Linked DNA regions of Homo sapiens: region 2 is linked to region 1. A link means that fine-mapping ties the variant in region 1 to the expression of a gene that starts in the linked region. Tissue or cell type: nucleus accumbens. Region 1 holds a variant in brackets; the other region holds the start of a gene. All regions are shown on one strand. Distances are between the middles of the regions.

What was found. PIP is the estimated chance that this variant, and not a neighbour inherited with it, causes the effect.
Region 2: SIRT6 starts here. The variant in region 1 is fine-mapped to the expression of SIRT6 in nucleus accumbens (GTEx, PIP 0.98).

The regions. Positions count from the first base shown.
Region 1 is chr19:3,969,607-3,977,862 of GRCh38, forward strand. DAPK3 (death associated protein kinase 3) reads right to left here and starts at 1,493. Exons shown (of 9, transcript NM_001348.3): 1 at 1,315-1,493; 2 at 68-223. The coding sequence starts at 129. It overlaps EEF2 (eukaryotic translation elongation factor 2), which reads right to left. Exons shown (of 15, transcript NM_001961.4): 12 at 8,213-8,256; 13 at 7,822-8,004; 14 at 7,609-7,741; 15 at 6,450-7,141. The coding sequence ends at 6,948. RefSeq lists enhancers at 1-544, 545-1,176, 7,794-8,003 and silencers at 65-359, 1,348-1,477. The variant C/T (reference allele first, on the strand shown) is at 3,434.
Region 2 is chr19:4,178,573-4,186,572 of GRCh38, forward strand. SIRT6 (sirtuin 6) reads right to left here and starts at 3,991. Exons shown (of 8, transcript NM_016539.4): 1 at 3,902-3,991; 2 at 2,210-2,337; 3 at 532-714. The coding sequence starts at 3,967. It overlaps ANKRD24 (ankyrin repeat domain 24), which reads left to right and starts at 4,117. Exons shown (of 22, transcript NM_001393985.1): 1 at 4,117-4,168; 2 at 7,818-7,889. The coding sequence starts at 7,854. RefSeq lists enhancers at 3,965-4,054, 4,125-4,174, 7,673-7,792.

The DNA.
Region 1 (8,256 bases):
TGTTCAGAAAACCCCACAGCGCCTCTCTCCTATCCCTGGAGCCCAGCCGTGCGGGCAGACAGCTCACCTGCCCAGCTCCTCCCCCATCTCATAATGGTCCTCCACGTCCTCCTGCCTGAACGTGGACATGGCGGCCGGTCCGCCTTCCAGCAGCTTCCACTCCAGGGAAAGTGCAGTCACCGCAGCCTGGAGATAGGACCTCAGGAGTCCCCTAATGGCAACCCTGGAGAAGACAGGGAAAGACAGAAGTGAGGAACTGAGACACCACCCTTTTCTCCTAGATTAATGGACAGACCTGTCCAGCAAACACAAGCCTCCCACCTCTCCACTCTGAAGCTCCAAACTCGACAAAAAGAGGTGCTGTGTTTACTGGGCTGGGTCCTGTCATGTCACCTCTTAGAGCCCCATAACCACTCAAAAGTTTGGTAACAGCCCCACTGGGCCACCTTCACCCCGCAAAACTCTCTCCAGACACATAATTCTGATTTCCCCGACGCTGCCTGCGTCTTTTTTTGCCTCTCACTCCTAGACTTCTCTCAACCTGCTCAGCCAAAATCCCCCACCATTCCTGCACGTTCTCCTCAACCTCAAATCCCAGGGCTACCTTACTCCCTGGCCAATGTCTTAACGAAGTTCTCAAGTCTACTTCTTTTGTTGTTGGTGTTGTTGTTTTTTGAGAAGGAGTCTCGCTCTGTCGCCCTGGCTGGAGTGCAGTGGTGCAATCATGGCTCACTGCAGCCTGGAACTCCAAGGCTCAAGCGATCGTCCCAGGCCTCCCAAAGTGCTGCCATTCCGATCAAAATTCCCAAGTTACTACCTTAACCCCTCCTGGTCCTTGCCCTCGGCAGGTCTCTTAAGACCCTCATCGATGGAACACCCCCGCCCACCCCCAACCATCTCTGACTCCCTCCAATTCTGAATTTTCCAAGAACCGGACGACGCCTTCCACGCTCCTGAAAGCCCACTTTGCCTCCCTCCCCCGCTGACCTCCACTGTCCTCGCAAGATTAACCTCTTCCTCCACGCTCCATGTATCAAAGTCCCCCAACCGCCGTCTCCCCTACCCCCCAAAACGGGCCGCCAAAAAGGGCCCCATCTGAGTCTCCTCCACCGTCCTCTGCCCCTTCTCGCCCGCAATCTCCGCACAAGCCCCTAGGCAGACCCCAGTGGCTCCCTTTGCAGAACCTCCCCCCGCCCCCAAGGCCTTGCCCATCCCTAAGGCTCCGCTCCAGCATCCCTGGGGCCGCTACGCCCCTCGCACGCCCGGCCGAGCCCTTTCCCCGGCCCGGTCACCCAGATGGGTCCCCAAACCTACCAGCTCCTCAGATTCTCTCCCTCCCTCGTCCTCCGCGGGCCCCCGAAGCGCCGCTCTGGCCCCACCCAGCCCTCCAGCCTCGGCCCGAGCCCGCTCTTTACCCTCCGCAGCCCGGAGAATACGGCCGGCGCCGCCGCGCTGGCCACCGCCGCCGCCTCCAGAAGCCCCGCGCCCCTGCCGCCGCGACGCGCCTGCGCCGACGTCACCGCACCCGCCAGTGCCCACCCCCGGGAAACGAACCCCGCCGCCTATTGGCCGGTGCGCCCGCCGCTCGTGCCGCACCTCGACGTCCCGCCCCCAGCTGCCTTTTCGGCACCCACACCCGGATGCAGCCTCACCACTGGCTGAACACTCGCCATCCCTGATTTCATTGGCTGCAGTCGACGCTGGTCAAGCGGACGGAAAAAAGGCCGACTTCCGGTCCCTTCATCGCCCCGCCCGCCTCTCCTCTGACCCAGGTGCTGAAGCTGCGAGAAGTGAGGCTGAAGCCCTGCATCCCGCTTCCTGCCTTCCTGGAGCACCGGTTGGGCGAATGGATGGCTCACCTGTGGCCGAGCGCGCCTGGCAGCTCCTGGAGTGGACCCTGGGACTGCTTTAGTCCCTATGTGGCAGTTTCCTCCACTGAAAACTGTTACCCACATTCTAAATACTTAAAATGCAAATGAGGTCAATCTGGGGTTGTCATACACAGGGTCCCTCTTCGTCTCAAAATAGAGGGTAACAGCAAGCATTTTATTGAGACATAGTATGTGCCAACTGACAACACTGGGAGGTATCAGGTTTGTTTTTTTTTTAATTTTATTTTTTGAGACAGGGTCTCACTCTGTCACCCAGGCAGGAGTGCAGCGGCGGTATCCAGCTCACTGCAACCTCCACCTCCCGGGTTCAAACGATTCTCGTGCCTCAGCCTCCCAAGTAGCTGGGATTACAGGTGCCCATCACCACGCCCGGCTAATTTTTGTATTTTTAGTAGAGACGGGGTTTCACCATGTTGCCCAGGCTGGTCTCGAACTCCTAAGCTCAGGTGATCCGGCACCTCAGCTTTCCAAAGTGCTGAGATTACAGGCGTGAGCCATTGCGCCCGGCCTAAATTCATTTTTTATTATTATTTTGAGACGGAGTCTCGCTCTGTCACCCAGGCTGGAGTACACTGGCACAATCTCGGCTCACTGCAAGCTCCACCTCCCAGGTTCACGCCATTCTCCTGCCTCAGCCTCCCGAATAGCTGGGACTACAGGCGCCCGTCACCACGCCCAGCTAATTTTTTGTATTTATTAGTAGAGACAGGGTTTCACCGTGTTAGCCAGGATGGTCTCGATCTCCTGACCTCCTGATCCGCCCGCCTCGGCCTCCCAAAGTGCAGGAATTACAGGCATGAGCCACCTTGCCCAGCCTTTTTTTTTTTTTTTTTTTTTTTTTGAGACAGTCTCCTTCTATCGTCCAGGCTGGAACGCAGTGGTGAGATCTGGGCTCACTGCAATCTCTGCCTCCTGGGTTCAAGCGATTCTCCTGCCTCAGCCTCCCGAGTAGCTGGGACTACAGGTGCACGCCACCACTCCCAGCTGATTTTTGTATTTTTAGTAGACGCAGGGTTTCACCATGTTGGCCAGGATGGTCTCAATATCTGTGATCCGCCGGCCTCGGCCTCTCAAAGTGCTGCGATTACAGACGTGAGCCACAAGCCGGCCTTTATATTTTTTATTTACATTTTCAACGTACAATGGGTTGGCCAGGTGTGGTGGCTCACGCCCGTAATCCCAACAGCTTGGGCAGCCAAGGCGGGCAGGTCACTTGAAGTAGGAGTTCAAGACCAGCCTGCTCAACATGGTGAAACCCTGTCTCTACTAAAAATACAAAAGTTAGCCAGGCCTGGTGGCACATGCCTGTAATCCCAGCTACTCGGGAGGCTAGCGCAGGAGAATTGCTTGAACCCAGGAGGTGGAGGTTGCAGCGAGCCGAGATCATGCCACTATACTACAGCCTGGGTGACGGAGGGAGACTCCATCTCAAAGAAAAAAAAGTGGCAGGGCATGGTGGCTAACGCCTGTAATTCCAGCATTTTGGGAGGCCACGGTGGGCAGATCACGAAGTCAGGACATCAAGACCATCCTGGCTAACA[C/T]GGTGAAACCCTGTCTCTACTAATAAATACAAAAAATTAGCCGGGCATGGTGGCGGGTGCCTGTAGTCCCGGCTACTCGGGAGGCTGAGGCAGGAGAATGGCGTGAACCCGGGAGGCGGAGCTTGCAGTGAGCCAAGATTGAGCCACTGCACTCCAGCCTGGGTGACAGAGCAAAGACTGTCTCAAAAAAAAAAAAAAATTCAGCTTCCACATACCATCTTAACGTTTGCACTACTAAAAAAGAATAGGACCCGGTATGGTGGCTCACACCTGTAACCCCAGCACTTTGGGAGGCTGAGGCGGGCTGATCTCTTACGGTCGAGCTTGAGACCAGCCTGGCCAACATGGTGAAACCCCATCTCACCTAAATATACAAAAATTACACAGACCTGGTGATAGGCGCCTGTAATTCCAGCTACTCGGGAGGCTGAAGCACAAGAATTGCTTGAGCACTTGAATCCGGAGGCAGAGGCTATAGTGAGCCAAGATCACAACACTGCACTCCATCCTGGGCGATAGAGTGAGATTCTCGAAACACAGTAATCCGTTACCCTGACTGCTGGAAACAGCGTCAGTTACAGCCCCAATTCAAATGCGACAGCCAAACCAAACCTCAGGCATACCTACATGTGGGCAAAACCTCAGCTGAGGCTTGGCCTTGACAATGCAGGGCCAGAGCTGCCCCCGCCTTTGCCGAGAACCCCACAGCCCTACTTCACAGTCCCCACCTGCCTTCCTGAGGACAGAGTAAAAGGCGGAAAATGATCATGTTAACCTTATCAGCACTGACAAGATTAGGCCTCCTCACATCTTAGGCACTATTTAGAAAAACAAATAGTTTTCTAAGCTATTGGCGCTCACACCTGAAATCCCAGCACTTTGGGAGGCTGAGGCAGAAGGATCGCTTGAGCCCGGGAAGGAGACCAGCCTGAGCAACATAGTGAGACCCCATTACTACAAAAAAAGTAAAAATTAGGTCAGCACAGTGGCTCACGCCTATAATTCCCAGCACTTTGGGAGGCCGAGGCGGGTGGATCACGAGGTCAGGAGATCGAGACTATCCTGGCTAACACGGTGAAACCCTGTCTCTACTAATAAATACAAAAAATTAGCCGGGCATGGTGGCGGGCGCCTGTAGTCCCGGCTACTCGGGAGGCTGAGGCAGGAGAATGGCGTGAACCCGGGAGGCGGAGCTTGCAGTGAGCCAAGATTGAGCCACTGCACTCCAGCCTGGGTGACAGAGCAAAGACTGTCTCAAAAAAAAAAAAAAATTCAGCTTCCACATACCATCTTAACGTTTGCACTACTAAAAAAGAATAGGACCCGGTATGGTGGCTCACACCTGTAACCCCAGCACTTTGGGAGGCTGAGGCGGGCTGATCTCTTACGGTCGAGCTTGAGACCAGCCTGGCCAACATGGTGAAACCCCATCTCACCTAAATATACAAAAATTACACAGACCTGGTGATAGGCGCCTGTAATTCCAGCTACTCGGGAGGCTGAAGCACAAGAATTGCTTGAGCACTTGAATCCGGAGGCAGAGGCTATAGTGAGCCAAGATCACAACACTGCACTCCATCCTGGGCGATAGAGTGAGATTCTCGAAACACAGTAATCCGTTACCCTGACTGCTGGAAACAGCGTCAGTTACAGCCCCAATTCAAATGCGACAGCCAAACCAAACCTCAGGCATACCTACATGTGGGCAAAACCTCAGCTGAGGCTTGGCCTTGACAATGCAGGGCCAGAGCTGCCCCCGCCTTTGCCGAGAACCCCACAGCCCTACTTCACAGTCCCCACCTGCCTTCCTGAGGACAGAGTAAAAGGCGGAAAATGATCATGTTAACCTTATCAGCACTGACAAGATTAGGCCTCCTCACATCTTAGGCACTATTTAGAAAAACAAATAGTTTTCTAAGCTATTGGCGCTCACACCTGAAATCCCAGCACTTTGGGAGGCTGAGGCAGAAGGATCGCTTGAGCCCGGGAAGGAGACCAGCCTGAGCAACATAGTGAGACCCCATTACTACAAAAAAAGTAAAAATTAGGTCAGCACAGTGGCTCACGCCTATAATTCCCAGCACTTTGGGAGGCCGAGGCGGGCAGATCACTTGAGGTCAGGAGTTCGAGACCAACCAGGCCAAGCAAAATTCTGTCTCAAAATAAATAAAAATTAGCTGGGCATGGTGGCACATGCCTGGAGTCCCAGCTACCTGGCAGGCTGAGGCAGGAGAGTCCAGGAGGTGGAGGATGCAGTGAGCTGACTGCACCACTATACTCATCTGGGAGACAGCAAGACTCTGCCTCTAAAAAAGTGTTTACAAGGCCGGGCACAGTGGTACAATCCCAACGCTTTGGGAGGCCAAGGCGGGTGGATCACAAGGTCGAGTGATCAAGATCATCCAGGCCAACATGGTGAAACCTCATCTCTACTAAAAATATAAAAATTGGCTGGGCGTGGTAGCACACGCATGTAATCCCAGCTACCCAGGAGCCCGAGGCAGAATTGCTTGAACCCGGGAGGTGGAGGTTGCAGTGAGCAGAGATGGTGCCATTCCACTCCAGCCTAGCAAACGGTGAGACTCCATCTCAAAAAAAAAAAAAAAAAAAATGGGTTTCTAATAAACTAGTCAGGACTGGGGTGACCACAGAAAATCCTGATGGCAGATAGAACTTGTGAGCTCGTCAGCAATTCGGAAAGTTGCTGAAACCTGCGAAGTTCAATCCAGAGCCCCTCGCTCCACAGGGCCATCCAAATGCGTTCAAAGTGACATCTCGTAATTCCTTGCCGCACTGATCCTACTTCAAATGCTCAGCAGACCCGCGCAGCTGGCAGCTGCTTCTCTGAATGACACAGGGGTAGGGCATTCCCACCATTCCAGAACGTTCCACCTAACACTGAGGCAGCCCCAGGCTGCACCTAACTAGGGCCCGGGTCCCCTTCTAGGCTCCAGGGAGCCCAGTACTGGGCAGCCCCGCTCCCCTGCGAAGACACCGTGAAAAATGCAGAACAGAGTCACCACCTTATCAAATTTATTATTCCAATGGCACTAGTACAGCTGGAGGTGCTCATGGTGACACCGCACAGGACTTCCTGCCTGCTAGAAATCATCTACCCGCGTGTTCCTTTCCCCTTTCTGGGGCAAAAGCCACTGCGGGCCATGTACCCAAATAAACCTCTTAATGCGTTTGTTAAAATTAGTTTGGACATCTGAGTTTCCCTCTGAAGAAATGGAAAAAGTGTTGGGTGTCCCATCCCGCCTCCCCCTCCCCGACCGGCCCATTAAGTCCCTACTAAGAGGGCGTGTCTGCTGCCTCCGGACTCTGGAAATAAATATTGAAAGAAACGGCATCAAGTGTTATGGTTGAGTGATGGCACGCAGCGGGCCCCAGAAACCTCTCAGGGGAGCGTCGCTGTGTCGGGACAGTCTCCAGGTGTCGTCTGAGAATTCGAGGACGTGGTGCTGTGGGTGCTGCGAGTCCCCGGGGCGGCAGGCGCTGCAGGAAGGGCCGCCTACAATTTGTCCAGGAAGTTGTCCAGGGCAGGGATGCCTTCTTTCAGGCCCTTGCGCTTGCGGGTCTCCGCCACCACCTGGCTGGGGCGGCTGCTGTTGTCGAAGGGGTCTCCGGGCAGGATCTGCCAGTGGTCAAACACACACTGGGGGAACGCCTGGCCGCCCGTGTTGGACCTCAGGTCAGCGGTGAAGCCTGCAGAGGGAAGCGAGAGGCTCACTGGGCCATCGAGAAGGTGGCAGGGCAGAAGGAAAGTCCTGTCAGGAGCTCAGGCTAGTTCCTCAGCCTGAGTCACCCTGCAGACCAGACACTCGGCCTGGTGCCCAGCACTTCACGAAGGGCCTAGCAGGCCACTCATGGGCCTCATGCCGCTGCTCGTTTGGGACAACCCTGTGCTACAGCTCGGCTGCTCTACCGGCCCAGGGCGTAGGCCTTCAGAGCTCCAGGCCCAGAGCCCTTCTCACACTGGGGATAGGAGAGCCCCTCCCCTGGGAATTCAGTGATTTAGGGGGTCCACAAGCTGTCAGAAACTGGACCACCTGCTCCATCCATCACCTGCTCCCATCAGGACGCCTCCTTTAACACCTTGCTAAGCTTAACTGGGCTTCTGTCCCCCAAACCAGCCTGCCAGGCTCTGCAGGCCACACCGGGCAGGCACTCACCAAAGGACTCGTTGACGGGCAGATAGGCCTTGACCACAAACATGGGGGTGCCGGCCACCTGGGACTCCTCGAACACGTGGCCCCGCTTCCTGTTCAAAACCCCGTAGATGCCACCGACCACCTGCTCTGGACACTGCCAGAAGGGAAAGAAAACCTGTCAGTGGCCGCTGGGCAGGACGGTGGCAGGGTCAGCGGTGGGCGGGTAGACCTCACCTGGATCTCCACAAGGTAGATGGGCTCCATGAGGCGTGGCTGGGCGGTCAGCACACTGGCATAGAGGCAGCGCCGTGCTGTGGGGATGATCTGGCCCCCTCCGCGGTGGATGGCGTCGGCGTGCAGGGTGACGTCGTGGACGTCGAAGCGCACACCCCGCATGTTCTCCTCACACAGTGCGCCCTGGGGGAGGGGGAGAGCCACCGTCAAGGGCCGGACACACCTCGGCTGCTTGCCCTCCACCTGCCAAGTCCTGCAGGTCTCCACCAGGGGGACCTGGGGCCTTGCCCGCCTTGGCCCCATTAGGGTCTCTGTCTCGGGAGGCAGGACCATGAGGTCCCTCTAGAGCCTGGAAACGGGTGTGGTCTGCACATGCTGAGCCGTGCCTCACCTCCTTGGTGGCCCACTGGAAGCCGGCCACCACACTGTCCTTGA
Region 2 (8,000 bases), 210 kb after region 1:
AGCGTGGTGGCTCACACCTGTAACCCCAGCACTTTGGGAGGCTGAGGCGGGCAGATCACCTGAGGTCAGGAGTTCAAGACCAGCCTGGCCAACATGGAGAAACCCCGTCTCTACTAAAAATACAAAATTAGCTGGGTGTGATGGCGCATGCCTGTAATCCCAGTTACTAGGGAGGCTGAGGCAGGAGAATCGCTTGAACCTGGGAGGCTGAGCGGAGATCACGCCATTGCACTCCAGCCTGGGCAACAAGAACGAAACTCGGTCTCAAAAACAACAACAACAACAAAAAACAAACTGCAACTTCTAGACCCTGACAGCTCTCCTCCCCTTAGCCCCATCTCGAGGGAAATTCTGCCTCTGGCCTCAGCCGGGACAGCTCTGAGCCATGGGACTCAGAGATCTCCACACACTGGGCCAAGAACTCAGGGCTAGAATCTTATAGAACCAGGAAAAGGGGACTCTCCCCCTAAAAATGCAAACACGGTTTGTGGGGCCCCAAGCTCTTTTGTGGGGGCGGGGCCAGGGTGTTACCTGGGGAAGCCTGAGCGCACATGGAGCCCGTCCACGTTCTGGCTGACCAGGAAGCGGAGGAGGCCCACGCGCTCCAGCTGCACCAGCGCCATGTGGGTCTGCGTGGGCCGCGCGCTCTCAAAGGTGGTGTCGAACTTGGGGGCCAGACCTCGCTCCTCCATGGTCCAGACTCCGTGGGGACCCCTGAAGGTGGCAGGCCGGGAGAGATGGACGGGGAGAGGGGAACAGAAAAAGAGACAGAGGGAGAATCAGAGAGGTATAGAGAGAAAGTTGGAGAGAGAGAAAATCAGGAGACAGAGAGAGACAGGGAGACAGAGAGAGGGAATCAGAAACAGAAATAGAGGGTGAGTTGCAAGAACAGGGAGAGGGGGATAGAACAAGACACAGACAGAGAGATAAAGAGTTAAAGACAAAGCAAGTCAGAGACAGAATTGGAGAGAGACAGAGAGAGGGAGAGGCAGAGAGAGAGAGATGAATTCACACGAAGGCAAAAATGACTTATTCTATTCAACCAACACTGCTGCTGCAATGAGCCCGACGATGCTCACATGGGCCCAAGCCCTGCCCTCCAGAAGCCCTTGATCTTGGGGGAGACAGGTGGACACAGATCCTCTGGCCCCAAGAGTCAAGCCTGGATCAGAGGAGGTACCTGGGCCTGGGGAAGCCCCGTGGAGGTGGGGGCCCTGGGGCACGTGGAAGGGCTTCCTGGAGGAGGCTAAGCAGTTTCTTGAAGGGTGAGAGGGAAGATCAGACAGAAGGGGTAAACAAAGGCCTGGGTGCTGGGAAGAGCCCATGAGTTTAGGAGAAAATGCAAGTGTTTTGGGGGCTGCAGCAGGAGCAGGAGGGGCTGAAGTTGGAGAGGTGATTCAGGGCTGGGGCAGGAAGGGCTTCAGCTTCCAGCACAAGGTATTCAGAACTCTACACTGCCTGGCAATGGGGAGCCACAGCAGGTTATGGAAGAGGAGAAGGAGGAGAAATTCACGCCTTGGCTTTTTTTTTTTTTTTTTTTTTTTTTTTTTGAGATGGAGTCTGGCTCTGTTGCCCAGGCTGGAGTACAATGGCATGATCCTGGCTGACTGCAACCTCTGCCTCCCGGGTTCAAGCGATTCTCCCACCTCGGCCTTCCAAGTAGCTGCGATTACAGGTGCCTGCCACCACACCTGGCTACGCTTGCAAATATGAAAGACTACATTTCCCAGCAACCCTTGCAGCCAGGTGTGATCAGGTGACCGTGTTCTGGCCAATGAGGTGAGTGGAATGCTGGTTGTGACAAGGGACACATCTTTTTGTTTTGTTTTTAGACGGAGCCTCACTCTGTCGCCCAGGCTGGAGTGCAGTGGTGCAATCTCGGCTCACTGCCTCCACCTCCCAGGTTCAAGCAATTCTCCTGCCTCAGCCTCCCGAGTAGCTGGGACTACAGATGTGTGCCACCACAACTGGCTAATTTTTGTATTTTTAGTAGAGACAGGGATTCACCATATTGGCCAGGCTGGTCTGGAATTCTTGACCTTGTGATCCACCATGCCCAGCCAAGGGACACATCTTAAAGGGAGTACCCAGGACACATCCAGGAGGAAAGCAGATGGATGTGTTCTCATTCCCAGATGTGTGTGGCTCGCAGGGAAGCCTCTGGCAGCCTGGTAGGCCTTGCCTCGACTTCCCCTGCACAATCACAGACCTGAAGTCGGGGATGCCAGAGGCAGTGCTGATGCCGGCACCCGTGTGGAACACCACACTGGAAGACTGCCAGACCAGCCTCGCCAGTTCCCACACCTTCCGCTCCAGCTCCTCCGGGGGGTCGAAGATCTGTGGGGGGAGAGAGCAGACGGAGGGGTCAAAACAGTTCCCCCAAGTGGCAAGGCCACGCACGAGCCACAGACTGAGCTGTCCCTGTCTTGCCTGAGGGAGGAAAATGGATTGGAAAAGGCAGCTTGTCCTCATGCCCCTCCTCTTCCTACAACCTTCCATGCCTCCCACCTGCCTTGTCAAAGCCCTAGCCCTTCCCACGGCCCACCAGGCCCTGCACTACCTCCCTTGCCCCCTCCCTGCCCTCTTCTCCTCCCTCTCCCTGCCTCACTCTGCTCCAGCCACACAGGTCTCCTCCTTGTTCCTCTATCACACCAGGCACAGTCCCGCCTCAGGGCCACACCCTTTAATGCTCTTCCCCCAGATACCCACATGGCTCCCTCCCTCACCTCCTGTAACTTGTGGCTTAGATGTCACTTCAGTGACAGTGATGCCTCCCTTGGCCAACTGGTTTCCATGCAACCCCTAGTCAGTCTCCCTTACTAGAAGGAGGGGTTTTTAATCTGTGTTGCTCCTGGCTGTGGCCTTAGTACCTAGAAAGTGCCTGAGCTACAGTAAGTGCTCTATAAATGTTGGTGGAATAAAGTGACTAACAGGCCGGGTATGGTGGCTCACGCCTATAATCCCAGCACTTTGGGAAGCCAAGGTGGGTGGATCACTTGAGATCAAGAGTTCAAGAGCAGACTGGCCAACATGGTGAAACCCCGCCTCTACTAAAAATACAAAAATTAGCCAGGCGTGGTGGCAGGTGCCTGTAGTCTCATCTACTCTACTCAGGAGGCTGAGGCAGGAGAATCGCTTGAACCTAGGAGGCGGAGGTTGCAGTGAGCCGAGATCGCGCCACTGCACTCCAGCCTGGGCGACAGAGAAACTCCATCTCAAAAATATAATAATAATAATAATAAAGTGACTAACAGCAGCAGTGAAGAGTGGGGCTTCTGGACGGGCGCACACCATCAGCGCTCATTAAATGCATGAGTCAGAATGCATGGGCCAGCCTTATGGAATGGGGCCATCTTCACCTCGTTTGCAGAAAGTTTGGAGATGGAGACCCAAAAGGGAAGTGACTTCCCCAAAGTCCCACAGTGCGTGGAGGGGGCAGCCGATCCCTCCACTTCCCCTCTGAGTGGCTGGAGGGATCTTTCTGGCACATTCTGTCCAGTCCCCTCGCCAGGGCAAAACCCTTCCCCATCACCCTCAGGATAAAGTGCCAACTCCCCAGCCTGGCATTTGAGCCCCGTCCTGGCCCGGCTCTGGAAACCTCCCAGGCCTAATCGTTCTCCAGGTGTGTTTATTCCCACCTCCCTTTGCGCCTGTCGTCCCCTCTTCCTGGAACTACATCCCCTCTCTCCCCGATCAGCCCCGACAGGGTGACCACAGAGTTGGGCGTGTTGGCGTCCCCCGGCGCGCAGGGGCGTCACTTCCCGCCCCTTCCTCACTGGGAAGTCCCTCCCATTGTCTAGCCTCAGTGCCCCCTGATATTCCCACAATGCCCCCCTGCCATCCGGCCGCTCCCAGCCCGCGGCCCTGGGGCGCGATGCTCGGGACCCTCAGACGCGCTCACCTCCGGGAGGCCGCACTTGCCCTTGTCCGCGTACGGCGACAGCCCCGCCGCGTAATTCACCGACATCCTCGACTGCCCCACGGGAACAATAAAGTTTCCCTTGTTGAGGCCGCTTCCGCCGGAAGCGGGGCGGGGCGGGGAAGAAGGAGGAACCGCGTTCCAGTCCTGCGCACCCGGCCTCCCACGGCAAGGCGCATGCGCCTCTTGCTGACGCCGCAGGCGACATGTTATCTGCTGTCAGAAGGAAGCCTGCCTCTTTGCATGCAGGTGTTTGCGGGGCTTGGGAAGGGGCTCCCCGATGACCCGGGCGGGAAATTGGGGCGGCCGCCTACGTGAGAGTTCTCCAGTCACCTCTAAAATGCGGGACACAGGCTATCCATGTCCCCACAACCCCTTTTACGGATTAGTAAATTCCGTAAGGACAGAGCCGGACAGCAGGGACCCCAGCCTAAGGGTTTTGAATGCCACGCAGAGTTACCTGAATATCTCATTTGTGTGTGTGTGTGTGTGTGTGTGTGTGTGTGTGACGGAGCCTCGCTCTGTTGCCCAGGCTGGAGTGCAGTGGCGCAATCTCGGTTCACTGCAACCTCCGCCTCTTGGGTTCAAGCGATTCTCCTGCCTCAGCCTCCCTAGTAGCTGGGATTACAGGCGCCCGCCACCACACCCAGCAAATTTTTGTATTTTTTAGTAGAGACGGGGTTTCTCCATGTTGGTCAGGCTGGTCCCGAACTCCTGACCTCAGGTGATCTGACCGCCTCGGCCTCCCAAAGTGCTGGGATTACAGGCGTGAGCCACTGCGTCCGGCCAAGTTATCTGAGTATCATCCAACTGGAGGTTCTGCATTCTGCAGGACAGGTCCTGCTCAAGGTCAATGGGGCTGGTGGCCTGGAGGACTCATTTAAGAATCATGTGTTGAGTACCTACTTTGTACTGGGCACACTGGAGAGCAAAGGTGGTACCATCTATGCCCTGGTGGCTGCGGGTGGACACAAACATGTGACCAGGTAATGGTGACATGGTGTGGTTGGGGTGCAATGGGTGATGCAGAGGGCACAGGGCAGTGAGGGGGCTCACAGGAGGCACCTGACCCAGGCTGGGGGCATCCGGGAGGGCTTCCTGGAGGAGGGGATGTTGCAGCAAAGATCTAAAAAGTGAGTGAGCCGGGCGCAGTGGCTCACACCTGTAATCCCAGCACTTTGGGAGGCCAAGGCAGGTGGATCACCTGAGATTGGGAGTTCGAGACCACCCTGACCAACATGGAGAAACCCCGTCTCTACTAAAAATACAAAATTAGCTGGGTGTGGTGGCCTGTAATCGCAGCTGCTCGGGAGGCTGAGGCAGGAGAATTGCTTGAACCCAGGAGGCGGAGATTGCGGTGAGCCGGAGATCGCGCCATTGCACTCCAGCCTGGGCAACAAGCATGAAACTCCGTCTCAAAAATAAATAAATAAATAAATAAAGAGTGCATGAGTCAGGTAGAGCCGGTTGGGGTGACATGAAGTACAGAAAGAATGTTCCTGGTGGGGGGAACAGCAAGTGCAAAGGCTGAGAAAGAGGAAGAGCATGGCTCCTTCCAGAAACTGAAATCAGTCCAGTGATGATAGGGAAGATCGTGGGTGTCTTCCCGCCAGAGCCAGTTGGCCAACAGGCAGTCCGCTGCCAGCCTGTCTCCTCCCTCGGCTCATCCCCGGCCCCCTGGGGCGGCCGCCTGCTCAGAGCCGATCAGGTGTCAGAGTGGAGCGGCTGGAGCTGCTCGTGGCCCAGCTGGGAGTGGGTAACCGGAGCCGGCAGTGGGCACTGTGGCCGGGAGCTCGGGGCACTGGAGCTGCAGGAGGTAGGGGAGGAAGGAGGTGGGAGAGGCCCAGGACGGAGGATCCCCTTATGGCCCCAGGCCCCTGAGCCCTTGTATGTGGGAGAAAGAAGCCGTGCTGAGTCCTAGCCAGGCTGCGGAGCTACCCAGGTACCCTGACACACACATGCACTCGTTCACCCACGCACTTCCCACTTGCCGGCCTGTGCCCTGCCTAGCTTCCTCCAAGGCAGGTGCTCAACATCCCACCCGGCCATCAGGCCCTTCTTATTTACCATCACCTCTTCCAGCAAGCAGCTTCCTAAATTTAGCAGGCGTTTCTCCCTCCCCCAAGCCCACGGATTGTCTTCTCCCAAGCAGCCTGTGAACTCCTCTGTTGGGTGTCTTATTACCCCCTGCTTTGGGTGTGATTGAATCCTCCAGTCAGAGGTAGAAGAAAAAAGGGTAGGTAGTGAGTGAATGGGCACCGGTGGAGGGGTAGATGAATGGATGGGTGGGTGGATGGATGGGGGGCGAATAGGTGGATTGGTGGTTTGGTAGATGGGTGAATGGGTAGATGTATGGATGGATGGGTGGATGGATGAATGGGTGGGTGATTGGGCAAATGGATGGAGGGATGGATAAGTGGATGGATGGATGGATGGAAGGATCCATGGATGGACTGGTGGGTGGGTGGATGGATGCACTGGTGGGTGGGTGGGTGGATGGATGGATTGGTGGTTGGGTGGGTGGATGGAGGGATGGATAAGTGGATGGATGAGTGGATGGGTGGGTGGGTGGATGGGTGGATGGGTGTGTGATTGGGTGGGCAGATGGGTGGATGGATGGATGCTTGGGCAGATGGATGGATGGGTGGTTGGGTGGATGGATGAAGGGATGGATAAGTGGATGGATGGGTGGATGAGTGGATGGATGAATGGTGGGAGTTGGTAGGTGTTTGGGTGGGTGGATGGATGTGTGGGTGAAATCTGATTAAAGGGTGATGAAGAACCATGAGAACATGAATTGGGTGGGTGGGTTTGTGGGTGGTGGCCAGTGGGTGGTTATACAGTGCTTAGGTGGGAGGATGGATGTCCAGGTGAGTGCATAGGTGGTAAATGCGTGGAAGGGTGGCTTGGAGAATTCACGAGTAGATAGGTGGACAGGTAGAGGCCATGCCAACCCCTACTCCTTGGTAAGAGGCAAATACAGATTCTCCATCACAGAAATCCCTTTCACACATAGGGCCTCACAGTCACACCCCTCAAAAAACACACCCCCTCAAGATAGGCCTGCCTGACCTCCGTGCCTGCCCATGCGGAACGTAGAACAGGCCCAGGTGGACAGAAGTGCACGTGTGCACACGCCCCACACTCAACGTCACACACATGCATGCAGCCATTGCCCCAGACCTCCACCCACTATGGGTGAATTGCTGTCACATGGAGGTTCCCTCTGACTATGTAGCAAACATGCCTCTGTGCTGAGAGCCGTCAGCCCTGGCTTCAGTCCCCAGGGAGCCCCTGACTGTTGAAAAGGACAGAATCAGCCCAGACCCTTCCAGCCCATGGAGCCAGGGGTGAGGCAGAGGCAGAGACCCAGCCAGGGTAGGCGGGAACCCAATTTGGGGAGTTAGATCTCTGCTTGGGAACAAGAGGCAAAGCTGATAAGAGCAAGGGATTTTGGAACTGGGCTTTGAAGGATGAGTAGGAGTTCAGAGAAGAAAAAAGAAACCATTCTAGGCAGAAATAACTGCACAGGTAAAAGTTAGGAGACCAGAAAAGGCTTGATCTGTTTGGACCGCAGGAAATACCAGTGAGATGCATTTATGAAGCCCCTCATGTTTGGCCAGGCTCTGTGTAGGGACCATGCTGAAAACTGACCATGAGTTGGTCAAGAAAGGATCATTTCTGTCACTGTATAGATGAGGGAAGTAAAACAGAGAGGGCAAGTAAACTGCCAAAGGACACACAGCAGGTAGGAGATAGAGCAGGTCTGTGTCTTGCTCTAGGGGCCAGGACTGGTCAGGAAGGAGGAAGCGGTCCTTTTGAGGAGGGCGAGGCAACGGACCCTGCCGCCCACCAGGACTGGTGTCCCTCACCTTACCCCCACCCTTGCCCTCCTCAGGTGGCCTGTGGAGAGGAGAAACACAGGGCACCAACTATGAAGACTCTCAGGGCGCGATTTAAGAAGACAGAGGTGAGTGTGAGGCCCTAGATGCCCGATACACCCCTGCAACTTCAGCCTTCTGTCTCCTGGGGCTTGGCTGAAGATCCACCCTTTCATTCCAGTACCCACCTCTTCTCCTTT